Homo sapiens: one gene and its partners. The protein of the gene in region 1 interacts with the protein of each later gene in a pairwise test. Each region holds a gene or a part of one and is shown in the gene's direction. Other genes may lie near its edges.

What was found. The genes of interacting proteins can lie anywhere in the genome.
Region 2: the proteins of ZNF148 (region 1) and GLRX3 interact in binary tests that used the Homo sapiens proteins (3 or more experiments, as listed by UniProt).
Region 3: the proteins of ZNF148 (region 1) and NUTM2F interact in a two-hybrid assay, tested with the Homo sapiens proteins (3 studies listed by BioGRID and IntAct).

The regions. Positions count from the first base shown.
Region 1 is NC_000003.12:125,225,308-125,232,334, reverse strand, and holds the end of ZNF148 (zinc finger protein 148), read left to right. Parts: 3' UTR 1-6,666; downstream 6,667-7,027. UniProt on the Homo sapiens protein: Involved in transcriptional regulation. Represses the transcription of a number of genes including gastrin, stromelysin and enolase. Binds to the G-rich box in the enhancer region of these genes.
Region 2 is NC_000010.11:130,160,391-130,167,417, forward strand, and holds part of GLRX3 (glutaredoxin-3), read left to right. Parts: intron 1-405; coding exon 406-607; intron 608-6,116; coding exon 6,117-6,289; intron 6,290-6,528; coding exon 6,529-6,590; intron 6,591-7,027. UniProt on the Homo sapiens protein: Together with BOLA2, acts as a cytosolic iron-sulfur (Fe-S) cluster assembly factor that facilitates [2Fe-2S] cluster insertion into a subset of cytosolic proteins.
Region 3 is NC_000009.12:94,325,618-94,333,132, reverse strand, and holds the start of NUTM2F (NUT family member 2F), read left to right. Parts: upstream 1-4,488; 5' UTR 4,489-4,509; coding exon 4,510-4,525; intron 4,526-7,198; coding exon 7,199-7,515.

The DNA.
Region 1 (7,027 bases):
AAAAAAAGTGTAAATAATACTGGCACTTTAGAACAGATTAATCAAGAGTGGGGTTACTCTGTGTAAATGGAGTGCTGTACAGATTTAAGAGCAATGCGTAATAACAAGTTAAGCTGATATGAATAGCAAGATAATCCAATAACTGCATTTCGTTTGGTTAGTCAGCATTCTTTGAACTGCCTTACATGTTGTCACCTTTATAGAAGCAATGCATTACTTGTTTTAGATCAGAAACTTGCTATTCCACCCACACCAAGTTAAAAAGGAAAAAAAAAAGACTTTCGCACAATTGTTTCCTAACTGATAACATTGTACATTCTTAGGAGATTAGTAATTGTGTGAAATTTACTCATACTGTTTCTAAGTTTTTCAGCATAGTCATTGCACTTCAGCAGGGAATCTGAGTATACTTTACAGACAGAGTGAACTTAAAAGTTTAATGTCAAGAGATTATGGCTTAAATAAATTAGTGTGTCCTATAGGGGGAAAAAAACCAAGAAACCACCTTTTAAAAAGAATGATATGCCATATACCCTTGATTTTCATTTTGCATTATATTGACGTGTTTTTTTGAAGGAAAAAAAGTAATAAAAATCTGATAGTCTAAGACTCCACTATTTAAAAGCCTAATTACTTTAAAAATATGCATACTTTCAGAACTTTTACCAAAACACACAACTGTTGAAGCAGTCACTTCTCTATGGAAGTATGCATATTGGTGTCAGTTTCTTTGTACAGTTGTACTTAGATATTTTTTATGATTTTTCATGTGCAGGTATCAAGGTTTTGAAGTTTTAGTAAAAGAAATTCTGTAGATTACATTCCCAAGAACATAATGCTTACACAAAATGTATATTCCACGTTTTAAAGCTTAATTGTATTTTACTTTACATATACACTTCAGTTAACATAGAGCACTTAGAATCTATTTGGTATTTTTGATTTCTCAAAGTAAAAAAAAAATTAGATTTTTAGGTTTGATATGGTTGTGTCATAATCATCTCGTAATTGACAATTTTAACTTTTGGCAATAAAAGGAAATTGGGATATCTTTGGAACTGTAAAACCTGGTTTAATCTTTTTCTTTCTAGACTCTTGATAGATTGGATAATTAAACAGTATCCAGAGAAACTAAAGAAATGGGCATTTTAATTGCATATTTTATCTTGAGTTACTTTTTAATGAACACTGCTCATTACAACTTTACAAACCAAAAGTGTTTACTAATTCCAGTAACTACCATTTCTTTTTCAGCTAGATGAGTGATCGGAAAATTTTTGTTGCATTTCAAAATCTAAATAAACTACAGACTTTATCCTTATACCATGAATGTTTTTTTTTAATACTCTGTCTTAAAATAATACAGCATGGTACAATAAATAGTGCTTTTATGTATATATACACACACACACTTTTCTGAAGAATGATGGTTTGAGTTATGCGTTGGGCAGTTTTGATTTTTGGAAGTTATATTAGTTATTGACTCTTTGTTACAACTTTTTCATTTTTACATTTTAAATTTTCTGCCATCGTTGTCACAATGCACATCCTGATATAGCACCAGTGAAAATCTAAAATTAATACCCTTGGAAAATGAAAATATTCTTAATTTCCATTTTGACTCTTATACTGGCCCTATAGCTCTGCAGTCTTTGTTTCAATATAGAATATGTTATCCATTTAAATTATTTTTTCTTTTATTTAATGTTATCCCAAGACTGTTCTCATAAAGAAAGGGAAGAAATAACTATCCACCCTTAACATCCTTCATTTATTTTGAATATATTGGTGTTTTTATGATAAGGAATATAAATTATATTTAATGTGGTTTCCTGTATACTTTGGTTATTAAGTTTTGCTTGAAATAGTAGTTTTCCCGTTTGACAGCTTTCTTTGCTGCCAAAGTTTTCAAGAATTTAAGACTTCTTTGAAGTAAATATTTAAGTTCTGCCATTATTGACTCTTAAGATTGTGTGTGTTGTGTTGTGCATTACATAATTACAAAAAGGCTTCATTCAGGTGATACGTTAAAAATGGAACTGTGCTCACCCTAAATAGGCATTGGTATTTTTCTCTTTTGGTGAGAGTAGGCATTTATTTCTTGAGTTGTTTTGGAGCCTGATCAAAAATTTTGTTCATGGAGAACTTGATGCAATTTTGATACAGTGGAGAGGTTTTTTTCGGTTGTTTTAACATCACCAGCATAGTTTTTAGAATGTGACTCTTGCTGAGCATTTAGGGTGAGCTTGGGAAGGAAGGCCTTTGAAAATGGTAGTTATGCAAGCAGACTTTCAGGTGTTGCATTCCTGTTTTCAACACATTTCTTTAAATCTACATAATGGCAGACTTTTCTACCAGGTTATAAGCAGTTTTTAGATAAGTGATACTCAGCCAGCATAACTTATTGACTTACCATTTACGTATAGTCATCACTCTCTTACTGTGAAATTCCAAATGCCTACCAGAGTTACCTTGTTCTATCATAATATGACAAACATCTCAACAGTTTTGGATTTCCCCACTTTGGTTCAGAAGGTTATTTAATTTCTATCTGGGCATTAATGGAGAAAATAAGTAGCCTTGTGTGCTGCTTCAGATTGAAACATGGAGGATATGAGATATTCTTCTGCAATTCATGTTTCTCATTTCTCAAAGTGAGCACATTGTTCTATAAAAACATGCTGGTACACCCTTAAACTTTTGATCAATCTGAGTGAGGTGTGCTTTTCCTCTTGGGACCTACTCACGTTTGAAGATTGGAAACATCACGTTAGGCGAGGCAGTATCTCTTGAACATCTTCTAAAGGGTTTTTTAAAACCTTATTCTCACATATTTCATTTGTCTTGAATATTTAAGTGGCTCTTAAACGTTTTGGGTCTACATGCAAATGTGGTACTTAACAAGGTAGGAATCCATCTTCTTAGCTCTGGCTGAGGGTGCCAGCCATCGGTCAGGTCATTTTTATCTCAAGAGGCAGAAGGCAGTTATGTCAAGAATTGTGCTCAGGGCAGGATTTCGTTTCCACAGAGGAGAGACACTTGCAGAGTGCCAGCTAGGTTAGATCTTTTGCCGCTTCTTTCATTTGATTAATTTGGGTTTTTAAAGGGCTGTTTAAAAAAAAAAAAAAAAGGCCGGGAAACTTTAAAAGTAGGCATTACTGTAGTACTGCATTTCTTAGAACATTTTAAACTAGAACTCATTTTTTTTTCACAGTATATTTACTTGAAGAAGCACTATAATAATCATTGAGAAGTATTTTGAGTCTGAAATTTAATTTAATTTTCCGTTTCAAATTGCTTTATTTCAGGGAAATAATTTTCCAGTTGTTTTGCTATATTCTGCAAATAAAAACCGTGTTTCCTTTTTTCACTTAAACTTTGGTAGGAAACAAACTAAAGCAGACAAACATTTCTTGTTATGTTTGTTGCTTTCTTTAATCCAATGGATAAAAAAGTAAAACCCTGTAAACATTATTTTATTTTTTTATGCAATACCATGCTGTAAATATGGTTCATCAAATAAGGATGTACCTATGATTGAATCTTTAATTCTGCACAGTTAGAGTTTATATATAAACGTGTCTTGACAATCAAGGACTTTTATGTGAGTCTTCCTTTATGATGTTTATTAATGTTATGCATTCCATTTGTTTTGAAGTGAGTACCAATGTGCTAATTTGTATTGTCTGAAAGTATGTAATGTTTTTACAGCTTGTTTTTAAGAATCTGTAAATATGTACAAACAAATCACAGTACTGCTTTATGTTAGAAGGCATATGATGTTGTACTGTATGTAAGCAATAATACATAGCAGTGCTAACTTTACAAGTAGCATCAGGAAAGTTCTAAAAACATTTCAGAGTTATTAATTATCCTTATTTCATTTAATAATGATTATCTTTAATCAGTTTTTATAAGCAAATTCCATTGTTCCTCCTATTGGAACGTAACACTGTTTACACAGCATAATTGAAGTTGCAGGGGAGACAGGCTAAATCTGACTTCATCTGTACTCACTTTCACTAAGCATTGAATGGCCTTACCACTCTTCTGCAAGATGGAGGAAGACCGCAAAACTTAGTGCCCATCACACTGAAGGAAGGGATGTGGTTTTTTTTCCTGCTTCTGTACTGCTACCTAACTTTGTGATTTGCTTTGGATTTTAATATTTGTTTCTGTTTTAGATTCAAGCCCGTAAGTTTTGAGGTGACTTCAGCTCCATTGTGAAATAGATAGTTCTCTTCATATTTCATAACTACATTTCAATAATTCTAAACTTTCTACATTGATTTTTAGATACTTATTTTTCAAGCTTGGTTTCTCAGCTGATCAGATGAATTTATTCAACTTCAATACAAAGAAAGACAAACCTATTATAGTTTCAAGTGAGTAGATATTATACTGTACAGGACAGCTATTTGAACACACACATCACTGCTTTAGAAATAAAACCGCCAATTTATAAATGTATATGACCTACATTTTATAGGAAAAAATGTTTTTAAATGCTAGTCATTTATATAATGTGCTTTGAAGGATTTGCTAGTCCACTTCTGTCACTTTTTAGTACACTGGTATCTTTTATATGTAATGTATGCTTTTTATTATTGTAGCAAAGCATTTCAGTAGAAAGAATTTTGCAACAATATGGGGGAAATTTTTCATTGTTGGATTTGAATTATACTGGATTTTATCTGTGTAGTCTTACTTGTCTTTATTTTAATGCTGTCTGAAGGGAACTTGGTATCCAAATAAAGCAGGTAACCTCATTTTACTTCAAGGGCATACTGTGTAGTGCTGAATTTAATCTGAAAATCTGATGATTTTGAAAAGAAAAACAAGTTTATAAACATTGTACAGAAGAAATTAAATGTGTGTGATGGAAATCCTGATGGTGGAGCACGTTGAATTTTCTGATATATAGTGTTATTTTCCTGGGATCCCCTATGCCTTCTTTGTATTTCAACTAATAAAGGAAAAACCCTGTCATTAAAACTGGTAAGATAATAGGATATTCTGATTATACAGTATTACTATTCCTATCCCATTTTCTGACCTTTTCTCAATCACTGTAAATTTTTATTTTCTATTTCCTATTGATAATTAAATATGTACATAATATAGACACTGTTGTATAGAACTAAATGAATTGGGTTGCTATGCTTGAGTGGGTAGTGAAATGGAAATATTTGATGAATACTGAGAGTTCCTAAAATGCTAGAGCAAATTTCCGAGGGAAAGGGGGGCATCGTGTGTCTTGGGAAGGTTGCAGCAGGTTGTTTCTTCAACTCCCTAAGAAATCATTGGGAAGGACTCAACTGCAAACTCGGGATCAGATACAAAATGGGTCTTTCCTTCCCCTCTCCCCCAAAAAATAGGAGCACTAAATTTTAAAATCTACTCAGGTGACAGTTGCTTTGCAATGAAACTTATCACATTGAAATTTTCAGTGTTAAATAAAAAGAGATTTGTGATATTTTTAAATATAAACTTTTACATCAGTAGTCAGCAGCCTGACAATTGAAATTTGGTAAGTCGATATATTTTAAAATATTTTGCTCTCCAAATAGAATTGTTTTTAAACAATTGGGAGGTTTTTTGTTTCTTTAAATATGTTTTAATTGTCATTGTAAAAACAAAATCTTGCTTGACCCTATATTATGCCATGAATGAATTGCTGAGCCTTTATAATACAGTGACAGCTTGTTTCATGCATAGTCATGGAACATAGAGATGTTCTTTAAACTGACCTATTGATAAGAGGTTTAATGAGTTTCACGGCTTTCAACACTATTGTCATATAGTTATCTTTGCCATTTGGAGTTTATAAAACCATTTTATGTATTGTGATACTAAAGGAAGTTGTTTTGCTTTACTTTAAATTGAATTATTAGACTAATATTTGCAAATTCTGCATTTTAAATGTGGACACTGGCTGTTTGAAAAATAAAATATAGAATACAGTTTTATGGATAATTTTCGAGCTGAATTTTTCACAATATTCTGAACCAAATAACGAATGGTAAATATGCAAAAATCATGGTGCATAGATATAACCGTAAAGAGAAAAGAATTTCTGTGTGGAATTAACAGTTACACAAATTGGGTAACAATTATCAGGGCCTTTATTATAGCTTTATGTGGAATGTTATTCTAAAATGCAAGAGTCAAATGTTACTGTCATTGAATATTTTAGACTTGAAACGTGTTTATCATAGAGCGAAGAAAATATGTGTTCTTTTCTTTACAGATAAGACTCTGTTAACCCACTGTCAGCATACGTGGGATTTCTTTTCTTTTTTCTTTCATTAGTGGAGATTTGTTTTCATCCATCTACCACCTTGCCAGTACCCTAGCTTGTGACCAGCGGGATGCATTGTAAGAAAGTTGTCTGTGGTTAGGAGTGCAGTCTGGGTCCATGGAACAAATTTAAACTAATTGGCCCTCGCAATGATCAGTCCTAGGACCCTGGCCTTATTATTAGCATGGTGCTTTAACCAATTGTACATAATAATACCACTGATAGTCTACTAATGCATTTCCTAGATCCCAGTTTTTCTTGAATGATTAGGAATGGTGGGGAGAGGGGAGGGGAGATATTCTACATGATACTTCTCCAATCTTCTAAAGATTATAAGAAAAAATAAAAAATTGAAGTCACTTGAATTAATGTGTTGTCATTGAGTCTTACTCGACAATTTATCATGCACAAAGTGATTATGAAGATTTTCCTGATTATATGTTTGGATTGAATTTAAAAATTTTTTTTTTCAGAATGCTGGCTGTTCTGTTTTATTTCTTCTCTGGTGAACCTGATAGGATATAAATTATATTCATATGATGCATAAAGAATGAATGGAGGTGAAAAGTTTTAAGTGAACTAAAGCTAAAATTTGGGTCTCATAATTTTCTTTCTTTTGTCATTTTCAAGTGTAATTAAAAGGAACATTTTACCCAGACATTCACACAGCTGCATATGCATATGTGTAAGAGCTGGGATGTGAAATGTGATATTGTAAATTAGAAT
Region 2 (7,027 bases), on another chromosome or scaffold:
CCTGGACATAATGGAATCTCTGGCTGGTTCTGGTTTGATGAATGACTTTTAGGAAGCAGGTGCACACCTGTGCTTCCAGGCACCCATGGGTGTCATCGTAGTTCCCCAAATACCTCATTTATACTTAGTAATAGATTCATTCCAGCCAATGTGGGGGCAGTCTTTTTTGTATTATGTTAGACTGACCTGATTTGACTTTGAGATGTTGCAGTGTTTTCTCAGTGTGTTTCTGAGAAAAGAAAAAAATTATGTATTTCTAAAATTGAGATGCAGTGCAGGCAATTGGCAATGAGGGTTTCTTTTTTTACATCTCCGGTAATACTGTTGTCCCCTTTAAAAATCTGCTATAACAATGTCATTATTATGGAATGCTGCATGTATTCTAAATAACTTTTTAAACTTTAGAATTCTCAGAAAATCGACCGATTAGATGGTGCACATGCCCCAGAGTTGACCAAAAAAGTTCAGCGACATGCATCTAGTGGCTCCTTCCTACCCAGCGCTAATGAACATCTTAAAGAAGATCTCAACCTTCGCTTGAAGAAATTGACTCATGCTGCCCCCTGCATGCTGTTTATGAAAGGAACTCCTCAAGAACCACGCTGTGGTAAGAAGCTGCCTTTAACATAATATAAACAAAATGGGTGCTTTCCCAGAATGGGGTATGGTTGAGATGGGCATCCTGTTTCCAAGGATGCTATACCATACATCTTATACTTGTGTTCACATACTTTTAGAAAATCAAAAAGGTTATAATTCCCAATGACACTATATAAGAATTAGTTTGCATTATGGACTCAGCATGTTGGAACCAAAAGGGGTCTCAGAACTCATCTAATTCAGATTTTTGTTTTATACTGAAGTCCTCAGACTCAAAGATAGAGGTGACTTGCCCAAGGTCACCTGGTAAGCAGAGTTAGGATTAGGTTCCAACTACCATATTGCTGTCTCTTTTGCCTGTTTATCTACTTTTGCTGTTAACAGTTATTTTTTCTTTCTTGGCAGCCTCCTGTTTTTCACCTAGTTCAGATTCAGCAATTAAAAAATTTGCGGAATTTTTCAGTGTTTTTGTGTCCAGCCTGTGTGCTTTTGCCTCCCCTGTGTCATCACTGTCTAATGATTCTCTTCCTGCATTGCTGTCATTTCCAGTTTATAGCTGCTGGTAATGGAAAGATTCCGAATTCTTGGCTTGTAGTCACTCTTATTTTCTGTACACATGGATGCTTATAATTTTGTCCTTAAGTAAGTTTTAGAGTTATTTGACCCCTCTGGTAGTGGGTTTATGTTATTTTCTTTTTACTGTGCCTAGTACAACATTAGTATGCTGCATAATTGAGCATTTAATGCCATTTGATGATGCTGTTGAGACTCTAAGAGTATTTGTATCAACTACACAGGAGGGACTTTATTAAGATAGGGGCAGTAACATTGAGTATGCTCTTGATATGATTACAGCATGTCCAGAGTGACTTTATAAAGATAGCCAAGCTTCTAGTGTGAATTTGATTCTAAATTCTTCCCTGTAGGGTTATTAAATTACATATTAGCTTATGATAATGTCTAGTTTTAAAAATAAAGTTTCATGATGAATTCTTATTTTTTCGAGATGGAATTTCGCTCTTGTTGCCCAGGTTGGAGTGCAATGGCACGATCTCAGTGCGACGGAACCTCTGTCTACTAGGGGTCAAGCGATTCTCCTGTCTCAGCCTCCCGAGTAGCTGGGATTACAGGTGTCCACCACCATGCCCGGCTAATTTTTTTGTATTTTTAGTAGAGATAGGGTTTGTCCATGTTGGTCAGGCTGGTGTCAAACTCCTGACCTCAGGTGATCCGCCTGCCTTGGCCTCCCAAAGTGCTGCTGGGATTATAGGCGTGAGCCACCATGAATTCTGTCTTAAAAGTATCTCTTAGTTCTGCCTAAAAAATTTCCCTGCCAGTATTTATGTGTCAGATAATGCCTGCTATTTGTGTATTGCAAAGCTAACTTAGTCTGTACTAAACTAAAGGTAGCAACAGATAGTCTCTGTTGCGTTTGTTATTTTGTTTTTAACGGGGGTTGCAAATGGTTCACATTCACCTTCTTCCATGAAACATGAAAATTATTTCTTGTACTTTGTGCGGTGGCCACTAAATGGGAACTTACCACTTCAGTTGAATGGATTGTATTCAGCACCTTCATTCAGATCTCAGGTACAGTAGAACTGGCTGTGAAATGTGGGTGAAGCACACCTACAGTGAAATCTCTACAGTATTCTCTCCTTTGGGGTTGAACAGCAGCAGTCTCAGTCTTTTCTGAATGATAAACCTAATGAAAAGGCAGGTGGCAACACTGAAGCTTGGGGAAGGAGTGCTCAGAGGAGAAGGATGTCCTGGGAAGTGTGCTGCACTGGGTGTCATGCCAGGCGAGCCTCAGGCCCACCCCTGCGGCCTTAGCAACTTTGGGGACAAGTCAGGTACCCTCCTTGTGCCTTTAATTCCTTCTAGTGCTGTTGGGAACAAGATTGGCTGTTGGAGCCAATCTTGGAGGGCCTTTTCAGTGTAGATATTGTATGATTATTCAAGTAAATTAGAGAGAAACTTAGACATTTTAATTTTTCTGCTTACCTTTTACTTTATTAAACTGAATTTAAAATATACTGCTAGCATTTTTATATTTATATTAAACTTATTTAAATTATGTTTATTATAATGGAGTGAGATTTGGAAGACTGTACAAATAACAGAATAAAAAAGAAGCTTTGAAATATTTCAGGGCTGGGCGTGGTGGCTCATGCCTGTAATCCCAGCACATTGGGAGGCTGAGGTGGGCGGATCGCTTGAGATCAGGAGTTCGAGACCAGCCTGGCCAACATGGCGAAACCCCGTCTCTACTAAAAATACAAAAATTAGCTGGGCATGGTGGAGTCCTGTAATTCCAGCCACTTGGGAGGCTGAGGCAGGAGAATTGCTTGAACCTGGGAGGCAGAGGTTGCAGTGAGCCGAGATCGAGCCACTGCACTCCAGTATGGGTGACAGAGTGAAACTCTGTCTCAAAACAAAACAAAACACATTTCAGAGCCATCTGAAAACGTAGTATTATAGTTATTTAATTAATAAAAGACAATAAATATTTTGAGATACATATGGTTGAATGGTTACAGTTTCTTCTTTTAAAGTACTTCTATATAATTTTTATAACTACATTTTCAGTGGGTTTTTCTGTTTCCTGATATTTTCTGTTTCATGTCTTTCTGTCACATATAGTAAATAGATCATTTAAGAATGTTGCTGTTCTTTAATAAAATACTTAGGATTAATTGGAAAATATTTTTAAACTGTTTTCTTATGGGAACATAAGTCACCTCGACCCTCTGCTGTTCCTTTCTGAGCCTGGTTAGTGGAGCATTGTTTTTGCTCTTCTTCTGGCATTTTAGAGAAGGGCGTAGGCAAAGCTCCCTTTATAAAAGCACTGGCCATCTCATCTTGTGAACACGCACGTGGCTGCTCTTTCCTTATTTTGCACCAAATTAGCTTTGAAAGTGCTATCTCTGCTAACACCACTGAACTCCCACTGCGGAGTATTTTGATGTTTGTTTTTTGATTAGTTTGTCCCCACCTTGCTTTCTGCTAATCAGAAAAACATGAATGAATAACATTTAAATTTTATATCTAGAAAACCTTGAAAGCCATTTTTAGGGTCTCTCCTGGAGCCCCACTGGACTCAGCCTAACCCCTGCACAGGTCATGTCTCCATCTTCTTATCCTTCATGTGGGCTCTACCTGCAGAATTGTATGGTGTGTTATGAGCCTGACGTGTAGATAGGGTCTCAGTTGAAAAGAATTGGATTGTCCTTACTCTGTGCTCCTCATGAAGATGGGAAAATGCTTGTTTTAGGAAGAGTTTCCAGAAGCACTGAGGTATATGTCATCTTAAACAGAATCTTAAATCCTTGAGCAGGTTAATTATTTGGGAATTCTTATAACTATTTCAGTTAACAAAGCTTTTAGCAAAGCAAAAGGTATTTGAGGCATAGTCAGATATTCCTTCTGCAGTGAGAGTCATCCAGCCGGGCTCTTACTTTTGAATCAGCCACAGAATCAGGTTTCAGAGATGTTTTTTAGGGTTTATTGTTAGGTAGTGATGAGATGCGGTGTTAGGCACCTATTCATGTCATGAGTAGAAATGACTGGGGGTGGAAATGGGGATTCTGTGGCAGTTAAACATTACTTTTCTACATTTAAATATTTTTATTGCATGCATGCATTTTTCTTAAAAAAAGGTGTGTAAATATTTTGTTACTAGAATAAAGCCTTCTTGCCATCTTATCCTTAAGCGTAACATTTCTAGTCTGCCACTTTAACTCTTAAAAATGAAACACTACCAATCAATCTTTCTAGTCTGCATGTAATTGCCTAAAGCTAAAATAAAGCTTCTTCTCAGCCAGTTACAGTAAAAATGAGTTAATATATTGGCAACAGAATAACCATCAGCAATCAGCCGTTAGCTGTTTACTAATGAACTCCCAGATGAATAAAAAAATTTCAGAATCAGTGTTTTACTTCAGGCTGTACATGAACTTAACACTTCAGATGTAGGAAAAGCAACTTATATGCTATACAAATAAATACTAGTGCTTCATCTCAATAAACTGCAGATTTGGAAAATGTTTAGAGCTCACTTGTAGATCCATGTTTTAATAGTAAATATGATTTTGGGTGACATCAGTAAAGCCCATTCTTGCAATTAATCTTATATTGAATTTTATGGTTTGATTTTATTTAAAAACAATTGCTGACACTGCTAAGTCTTATAGAAATTTTGAATCTGAAGAATAGGTTCTTTTCCAGTGAATTACAACTGTGTTTGAGAAGAAGAATGAGGCGTGAAAGAGTAGGGCCCTACATAGTATTGGGAACAATGGAGAAGAATTAGCTTATGGAAAGAAAAATACTTTTTTTTTCAGACTAGGCTAATAGGTTTATAAAAGACTGATATTCACACTCTTATTCTTCAGTTATAATGTCATAATAAGATGATGTCAAAAAAGTACAGAATAAAAATGTGTCACAAAAGTATAATAAAATCATGGAACATAAAATTGTCGCTATAGTGTAGTAAAAAAATTACATTACATACTTTAGGGAATGTAAATAGTTTTAAAAAAGAAACTGTCAAGTTATGACATGAGATGAGAAAGAATACCGTCAATCTATTGATGGTTCATATATAACAACAGAGAAGATAGCTTTAAAATTCAATGTACTGTGTGTATTTTAGACTACAGGAGAACACATGCCTTCTTGATTTCTAATTTATCCTACTTAGAGATAGTGAAGATTGAGAACTACTGAAGTGGGAACTCAGGAAGTAGTAAAATGGCAGTAGAAATGCAACAGCATTGGGTTTTAAGTATAGTCAAGTAGTAGTTAAAAATAACAATTGTAGAATTTTTTCATCTGCCCAGAATTGATTCTCATAGATTCATAACAGAAAGGCTGGGAGGGACTGTCAGAGCATCAGGTCAGTCTCCTGATTAGTAGGAAAGTGCTGAGCGGAGGCCACCCATGGCCTCATCATGTGTCACCTTGGTGGGTGGAGGGAGCAGGTGTCAGATTCAGATTTCTGGTTTTGTTTAAAGACAAGGTCTTGCTTTATCACTCAAACTGGAGGCTGGAGTGCAGTGACAATCTCATAGGTCGCTCCAGCCTCAGACTTCTGGGCTCAAGTGAGCCTGTTGCCTCAGTTTCCCCAGTCTCTGGGATTACAGGTGTGCACCATCACCCCCAGGTCTCTGCTTTTTGGCTAGTGCTATTTCTCCTGTGACAAAAAATGTCCATGATATTGAAGAATAACTTTAATAAATACACACACCACTTTTTTTTTTTTTTTCAGTAGTCACAGTTGTGTCAAAAAGTTAAGTCATATCTGAGTGTGTGATATGGTTCAAGGTCAAATAAGGGGATCCAGGAATTTATTTTCTCTTTGTATATTATTCAGCCATGCTAATTAAATCACCAGCAAAATAAGGCAGGCGTCTATGTCTTTTAGATGATATGTACGCTGAACTAATGTATTATCATGTGTATGTGTTTTGGGAGAGAGAAGTTAAGTGCTTTATTTCTTTTTTTGTGTACAGGTTTCAGCAAGCAGATGGTGGAAATTCTTCACAAACATAATATTCAGTTTAGCAGTTTTGATATCTTCTCAGATGAAGAGGTTCGACAGGGACTCAAAGCCTATTCCAGTTGGCCTACCTATCCTCAGCTCTATGTTTCTGGAGAGCTCATAGGAGGACTTGATATAATTAAGGTTAGAATTGAGAAGTCTGTGCTTTGTAAAGAAATTCCATTTAGAGCATACTTTTTAAAATGTTGTGATAAATCTAAGATACAAATTTCTTATGAATCTATATTTACTAATAAGAACCTGCAATGAATACACAGTATTTCTGATTAGTTGATTGATCAATAATCTGTGTTATGGTATGATCAAGGAGATTTATGTTATAATAATTTTTTTCATAAAACTGGTATGTGTGCTTATTTTAGGAGCTAGAAGCATCTGAAGAACTAGATACAATTTGTCCCAAAGCTCCCAAATTAGAGGAAAGGTAAGTGTTTTAGAAGGTTTCAAATAGCCTATCATTTAATATATTAAAAATATTTTAAAGTCCTCAGGTTTTGCATTGCTCTTTCTGTGTAGAAATCAAGGATTTGGTATGCCAGACGTCATAATTGTTTAGTCACATTAGCCATTCAAACTTTGGCAAATCTAATTTGTATTGGAGAAATTTTAGCACCAACTTAGTGATCATGTGGAGGATCTGCTTTGCTTTTATAGAAATGTCATTGTTTCTGTGGAACAACCAAGTTTTGCTTACCTCTCTGCATTTCAGAGCCAGGGTCCAGTTGTTTTGTCACTGCTCCTTGGCGTAACCTCAGCACACTCGTGTTTTACTGGGTGCAGCCTTGGTGACTGCTGCGGGTGCTGCCCCAACGCCAGAGCACTGAGTGACAAGTGGTGAGTGTGAAAAACTCATCACCTCGC
Region 3 (7,515 bases), on another chromosome or scaffold:
CCAACTTGTGCTACCAAGTGAACAGACTATGAGTAAAGGCCTCTTCTTCCACTTTGCAGCTGCTCATATCATTGACAAACGAGCATATTAGAGCATGCATGCTGGCTGATCATTCTGATTAAGGCAACAAGCTTCACAACTCACTCAATGAGGTCGTCCGTGAGAACTTCACTGATTTTACGAGGACAGGAGCTACTTCTTTGCTGAAATGCATCACGGTTTCAACTGCTGAGGTTTTCCTCAACCTTTTGCATTGTTTGGAATGTGAGCAGCACGGCCGAGACAAACTTTGGGGTTCCCACTGCATTGTTAAACCTCCCCCTTCACTTCAAGGCCAGGCGAGCAAGGGAAAGGAGCGCGGCCTGGGCGTCCCGCAGGGCCCCGCTAAGGACCGCTCCCGCCTTGAGCGCAGCCACAGGCCCTCTCTGGCCACAAGGATGGGGTCGCCCCGCAGACACTGTTGACCAGCGGAAGCATGACCAGGAGGCGATTACCTTCTAATCACAAATAACTTTATTTTTAGGTAACACCACGGAGGACGCCATGAGAGCTAAGGCCGTTGGGTAACCGCCCTTTCCGCTCGCGCTGCGTCGTCTCCCTGCCCCGAACCACCGGCAACCGATGCTGGGAGCGGTTGAGGGCGGCCGGCTGCGCGCTGGAACCCCGCCCGCCTCAAGGCTCCTGCGCAGGCGCGCAGGGCAGGCGTGGAGCCCGCCCTGGGAGGGCCCCGCAGGAGATGGGGAAATGGAGGGACGCTGCACCAGGGCGCTTCCTGGGGCCAGGCGACGCCTTCTCCTTGGAGCCTCCAAGACCGTCCCTCCTAGAAACGAGAGAGTCTGACCGGGCGCGGTGGCTCACGCCTGTAATCCCAGCACTTTTGGAGGCTGAGGCGGGTAGATCACCTGAGGTTGGGGGTTCGAGACCAGCCTGGCCAATATGGTGCAATCCCGTCTCTACCAAAATTACAAAAATTAGCCAGGCGTGGTGGCGCGCACTTGTAGTCCCAGTTACTTGGGAGGCTGAGGCAGAATTGCTTGAACCCAGGAGGCGGAGGCTGCAGTGAGAGGAGATCACACCACTGCACTTCAAGGTGGGAGCAAGACTCCATCTCAAAAAAAAAAAAAAAAAAAGCTAGTACAGAAGCAACTCACTGACTTGAGTTTGTAGTAGCTTCAGAACAAACTTTCATCATCAGATCCTTTCTGCTCATTTGCAGGATTCCTACCGTCTGTCTCCACGTGATGACACTGAAGAGCCTTCACGTCTATGACGGCCTAGGGTCTCAAGTGCAGAGACTGAGAGCTCTGCCAGACACAGCATGGAGCCGCCATTCCTCTACTGTTCAGTGATTGGGTGGAAGAGCATCTGTCCTCTGAACAGGGGATCCAAGCCCTGAGATGATGTTTCTCAGCAGTCAGTGTGGCCCAGGACTTTCTGTGGGCATGCTCAGAGAGCAGGGGCCAGAGGACTTTTAGCCACCACCTTCTATGGCCAGTCTTCACAAATTACCTTTGGCTAATTTGATTGTCTCTCCTCCTGGGGTCTAGGACTTCAAACACATACAGAAGCGATTGCAGAATTGAAACAAGACACTTCCACAATATACTTTTTGTATCAGTGGCTCAGAAAAAGACTCATTCAAATCCTGTATCAAAGCCATGTGTGAGCATCTTGAGAAAGCATTGACTGACTAACTTGACAAGGGAGGAAGCAAACAAGAATTCTGCCCTTCTTCAGTGCCTGAGTGTGATATTTTGCCTCAACATCCCTCTTAGATGAAGTTACTGATTGAAAATCATTTAAGTTTTTGCCCCGTGATAAAAGATCGCGTCCTCAGAAAGATCTCCAAAGCATTTACTGTTTGTTTGGTTTGGTTTTGGTAAGTTTACCATGATTTTGCTTGAATTGCTCTCCGCTGATCTTCTCAGCTAAGATCGAGGTAGAGTTGCACAGCAGAAGAGGGCTGCATGTAAGGAGGCAGCTCTGTCTCGGAGGACAAAAGGCCTGGGAGCATCCAGACAGGCAGTCACTGTGTGGAGGTCACTCCCCTCCCAGTGGCCACTGTGGAGGCATTTCATAGAAATGCTCGCTGGACCATTCAGTTTTAGAGTTGGGACAAAACCGAGAACTCATGAGGATATCGGATAGGAGTTAGGAAATGACTTTTTCACACAACCCAGGCAAGGAGGGGAGAACCCTGGGCTTGAGACTTGCAATCCACTGCCTGCCCCTGCAGTGTGGCCCGTTACGTTTTCTGCAACTCTGCCTTCTTGAGTCCAAATGTCTTTGAAAGGGGCAAATGCTTCTTAAGTGCCAACAGGGTGTGTTTCAGTGAATGTTCACAGTGTGCACTGGTCCGGCTGAAGGCCTCTTCCCTTCCCCAACACCCACCCATCAGTGCAAAAGACTGCTGCCCAGCAGGGAGTGACATCTGTGTCTCAGATTTTCTTGCTGTGCTCTGAGTACTCACTCCTCATCTCCTTTGACCAGTTTCCTAACACTCCCCTTGTTCACAACACAGAACATGAGTGCTCTTTCCTGTCATTTTGACGCTGATAAACAGCAATTCTGTGTGAAAATGAGAATGAAGATTTTTTTAAAGACAGGCTACAATAATTCCCATGCTGAGAACCACATGTGATGACACTTGTGATGAAGATGAGGACAGCAACGAGCTGAGAGACTCCAACCAGGATTCACACATGCAAGGGGATGCATGAGAATGGGGATGGGACATTGGTGGTTAGCATCCTTGCTTGTCTCAGAATGGACGTGGGTTGTGGATTTCTAACTCCTGGAGAAACCAGAGTTCTAGGAATTGTAAGCCACTTTATGTTAGGAAAGAAAAAGACGGTGTTCTGCTCTCCTGTCCCTTAAAACTGTGCGTACTGCCACTAAACCTGGAAGCTGAGAACGGTATAATGGCTACTCCTGACTTCCTTTCATCAAATCAGCCTGCTATTGTTTTCTGCAATGGTTGTGGTGCAGAATCTTTTTGTGGTGCAGCCAAGATTCACACTTGAGTCTCCTTACTGCAAGTTCGCACTCTCACAGTGGAGAGTTAACAATAATTGCCTAATATGTTACACTTTTTTGGGAAGAGTTACCAGATAAAGTGCAAGATCCCAGTGAAATGTGAATAGCACAGATAAAGGACAGATTTTTTTTTTTGTAAAAGTGTACTCTAAATGTCATATGGATCATAATTATAGTAAAAACTAATTCACTGTTTATCTTCAATTCAAATTCCACTTGGTATTCTTTATTCATACTTGCTAAATCTGGCCACTATGTTCTTTCATGTATTTTTAATTTTAAAAAACAGTCCAACATCTCATTCTAGCAATTTACCTACAGAAATAAAGAGAGGAACCACATTACTGGGACAAATACAGTCACTGCAAATATCAGAAGAATACTAGAACATATTAATATATTAATTTTTACCCCCAAAAAACTGAAAATATTTTTAGACAGCAAAAATAGCTTCATTATGCTTTTGATTGCATAATATATCTCTGGAAAGATGAAAAAGAATCAGATAACACCTATTTCCTCCAGGAAAGAAAATGTGGTGGCCAGAGAAAAGAGGTGGGAGGAAGGCTGGTCATTGTCTATTCCACTGTGCACAATTTGAATTTGGAACCATGCAAAAGTATTGCTTAGTTAAGTTAAAATCATGTAAAAGATACAAAATAAACATTTAACACCAGCACAATATGCTGGGAAACAAAATGAAAGGATTTCTGGTCTCGGTGCTGTAGGTCACATAGCCTCTCTTTCCTGGACTGAGTCTTCCTAAGAAAGGGGACGGGAAGTAAGGCTGGCCTACTGGTGTGGACAGATTCCAGCAACATACATGACCTGGGGGCACAAGGACTGCTTCCTAAACAATGATGAGCACACAGCCACCTAATAGCCTGGATCAGCTGAGGCCATTCTGATTTCAAACACTCAGTCCCCTTGCCTTCCTAAGAACCCCTGTGTTTCTCAGACTGAAAACGTGTTCTGAATTTTGTTAAGTAAGTGTGGCCCCTGTTGAAATTCATCAAGAGTGGGAAAGAGCCAAAGTGGGAAGGAGCATGGGTTGATTGGCACAAAAGTAGGTCTGTTGATAAAGAATGGAAGTAAAGGGGACATCAGGTAGAAGCTTTTGCTGTGAGTCAGAAGGACAATTTAAAAGTTGCCTAAAGAGGCGCACACTGTCTGTGTTGCTGCCATCCAGTTGGATGGCAACCAACTGAACCAAGGGAACCTCAGGTTCTTGCCTACTGGCCAGAGCCCTTCACAGAATGTCCCCCACCCCCGCCAAGCCCGGCTGCCCACTGCCCCTCCCCCTCTGCAGAATGTCTGGGGTCCTGTGTTCCAAACCTGTTTATATGCAAATTATCCCTGCTCCACTTGGACTCAGGAGGATCTGCTGAGTCAGGTCACTCTCTGGGTCCTGCCCTTGACTTTTTTCATTGCGGAAGCTGCCAGACAGTGGTGGTCAGTGCCCAGCCTGAGGGGATGGCTTCAAATGGAGGTGAGCCTGTAGGGATGGGGCATTATCCGAGTCTGCCTTGCCTCAACTCCTTGGGAATTCAAATTTGAACTGTCCCTGGGGACAGCTTATAGGGCTGATGTTGAGGGAGGGAGCACTGGATGTCCCCAGGGACATCACACCTGGGGATGGCCATGGCACCCTGAGTCTGTGGTTAGGGAGGAGGGCTCCTTAGAGGCGGACCAAGATGCCTGGGGGAATACACCGTGTAGTGGAAAGGATGGAGAGGATGGGTTGATCCTTTCTAGAGGGGGACAGGTCACGTCATTGTGTTTGTAGGGAGTGGTGGGATCGTGTTGTGCTGGTGGCCCAGGGAGAATGACGGGCAAGCCTGAGCCCTGTGCCGTGTCTTCAGGCACCTGGAAGGTGCCCTTCCATAGTGTTTAGAGGGATTTGGACTGGAGTTTTCTAGTTCTTAGAGAGGAGTGGGGAGAAGTGGTCTCAGCCAGAAAACTGTTGGGTGGGTTGGCTGTGACAGAGCATGTAGTGACAGCCTCTGGGTGGGCAAGGCTGGGGGCCACTGCAACTGCCACAGCCCAGAGCCTCTCAGCTTCCTCCCCAGAGATGGCTTCTCCGTCAGTTCAGGTAGCTGTTGGCTTTGATTTAACAGGGGTGGGGGCAGAATGGGGAAGTTCAGGCAACACAGGGCCTGGGTTTCCTGAGTTGTTCTGAATTGTTTGCCCTTTGGTGGAAGCTCAGGTCTTCAGACCCACTTCCTCTCGTCAGCTAGCTCATGGCCCGTCCTCTGTACTTTGTGTTACTGTGGAGGTGAAGAATTTGCTCCTGTTCCATTTATACTACCTCATGAACGGGCGACAGGTGTGGATTCTTGCTGGTTCTCAGTGGAAGGCTCTGAAAAGGCTGGTTTCCTTTTCAGTAGAGGAAGGAGAGTAGCGCACAAATAGGAAGACAGTCCTATTATTATTATTATTCAAACTAGGATGTGTGTCCTGACTGATGAGGTGCATGTGCTGTATCCCTTATTCCCCTTGGCTAGAGACTGCATGAGGTCCTAGTGAACAGGGATGAGTTCCAGACAACTCTGCCTCACCTGGCCTGTGGCCCAAGAACCCCTGGTTCTTCGTTGGTCCCTATGTTCAGTTACTGGGAGCTCAAAGGAGAAGGACCAGAGATGGGCTCCCTGTCCCACTATTTAGTGTAACATGACTAGCAGCTGTGAAAATCCCTGGCCGGGCGCGGTGGCTCACGCCTGTAATCCCAGCACTTTGGGAGACCAAGGCATGTGGATCACGAGGTCAGGAGTTCAAGACCAGCCTGACCAATATGGTGAAACCCCGTCTCTACTAAAAATACAAAAATTGGCTGGGCATGGTGGCGGGCGCCTGTAATCCCAGCTACTCAGGAGGCTGAGGCAGGAGAAGTGCTTGAACCTGGGAGGCAGAGGTTGCAGTGAGCTGAGATCGCACCACTGCACTCCAGCCTGGGTGACAGAGCGAGACTCCGTCTCAAAAAAAAAAAAAAAGAAAAAAAAGAAAATCCCTAGACACCTCCCCTGATAGCCCTGCTGCTCACCATTTGCTGGCTGTGTTCTAGTCATGTGCAGCTGTTGCTGGCTACACAATGACAATATCTCAGGGGACTCCACCACTGCTTCTCAGATCTGCTCCCTGGGAACTGAGCTTCCTGAGTGGCAGCTGGGACCACTGAGCACTGAGGAATGGGTGGCCTGAATCTGACCCCTATTTAACACTTGTGTGGGTGGTGCCAGGACAATCACTTGCATGCTGGGCGTGATGTGTTATGGGTTATCTTCAGGGTTCCTAGGGCACTGGCTTGGGTGAGTTTCCATCCAGTGGTTTTCTTTTTTTTTTTTTTTTTTTTTTTTGAGACGGAGTCTCGCTCTGTCACCCGGGCTGGAATGAAGTGGCACGATCTCGGCTCACTGCAGCCTCTGCCTCCTCGGTTCAAGCAATTCTCCTGTCTCAGCCTCCTGAGTAGCTGGGATTACAGGCACGCACCATCAGCTAATTTTTGTATTTTAGTAGAGACGGGGTTTCACCACGTTGGCCAGACTGGTCTTCAACTCCTGACCTCAGGTGATCCACCCGCCTGGGCCTCCCAAAGCGCTGGGATGACAGGCATGAACCAGCACGCCCGGCCTATCCAGTGGTTTTCTTTTGTTGTGTTGAGCTAGGAAAGAAAGGGGTTTACAAGAGCTTCAGGGAAAGGAAGACTGAAGAGGAGATGGGGCCATAATATTCGGAAACTTCTGGTTTCCTGTCGGCCTTCTGAATGCCGAGCACTGCCCTGGGGTAGGCCCCTCACCTGCTGCTGAGCACACTGAGAGCCACCAAGCCACCGAGAGACTCATCCCTGACCCATGGCTTGGGAGATGCCTGTGAGGCTGGTGCAGTCTGCCAGGGACACCCGAGGGAGACCCTCAGAGACAGCAAAGGCTTGGCTGTTTCTTCTTGGCAGACAAGGGTCAGGGAGTCTTGGTGACTGGCGCCAGGCTCTCTAGTGGAGCGACTCTGCCGTGGAGGAACAGAGCATCTGATGCACACTCAGGGACACTTGCAAGCTGCAGAGTTTCCCTGTCACATGCCCTCAGCTGTTGGGACTCCCCTGATTCCCCAGTGACTAGTGTGGACCTGGAGACGCCAGCTCATTCACCTCTTTCCTTTGTCTCCACAGCATACCCAGTGCTGGGACCCGGCGTGACCGTGAACCCTGGCACCTCCCTGTCTGTGTTCACGGCTCTGCCCTTTGCCACACCCGCTCCCGGCCCAGCACACAGGCCGCCCCTCGTGACTGCAGTGGTTCCTCCAGCCGGCCCTCTGGTGCTCTCTGCCTTCCCCAGCACCCCTCTAGTGGCAGGACAGGATGGCCGCGGCCCGAGTGGGGCCGGGGCTTCCAACGTCTTTGTCCAGATGAGGACAGAAGTGGGGCCTGTGAAGCCCCCTCAGGCACAGACCTTGATCCTAACTCAGGCCCCCCTCGTCTGGCAGGCT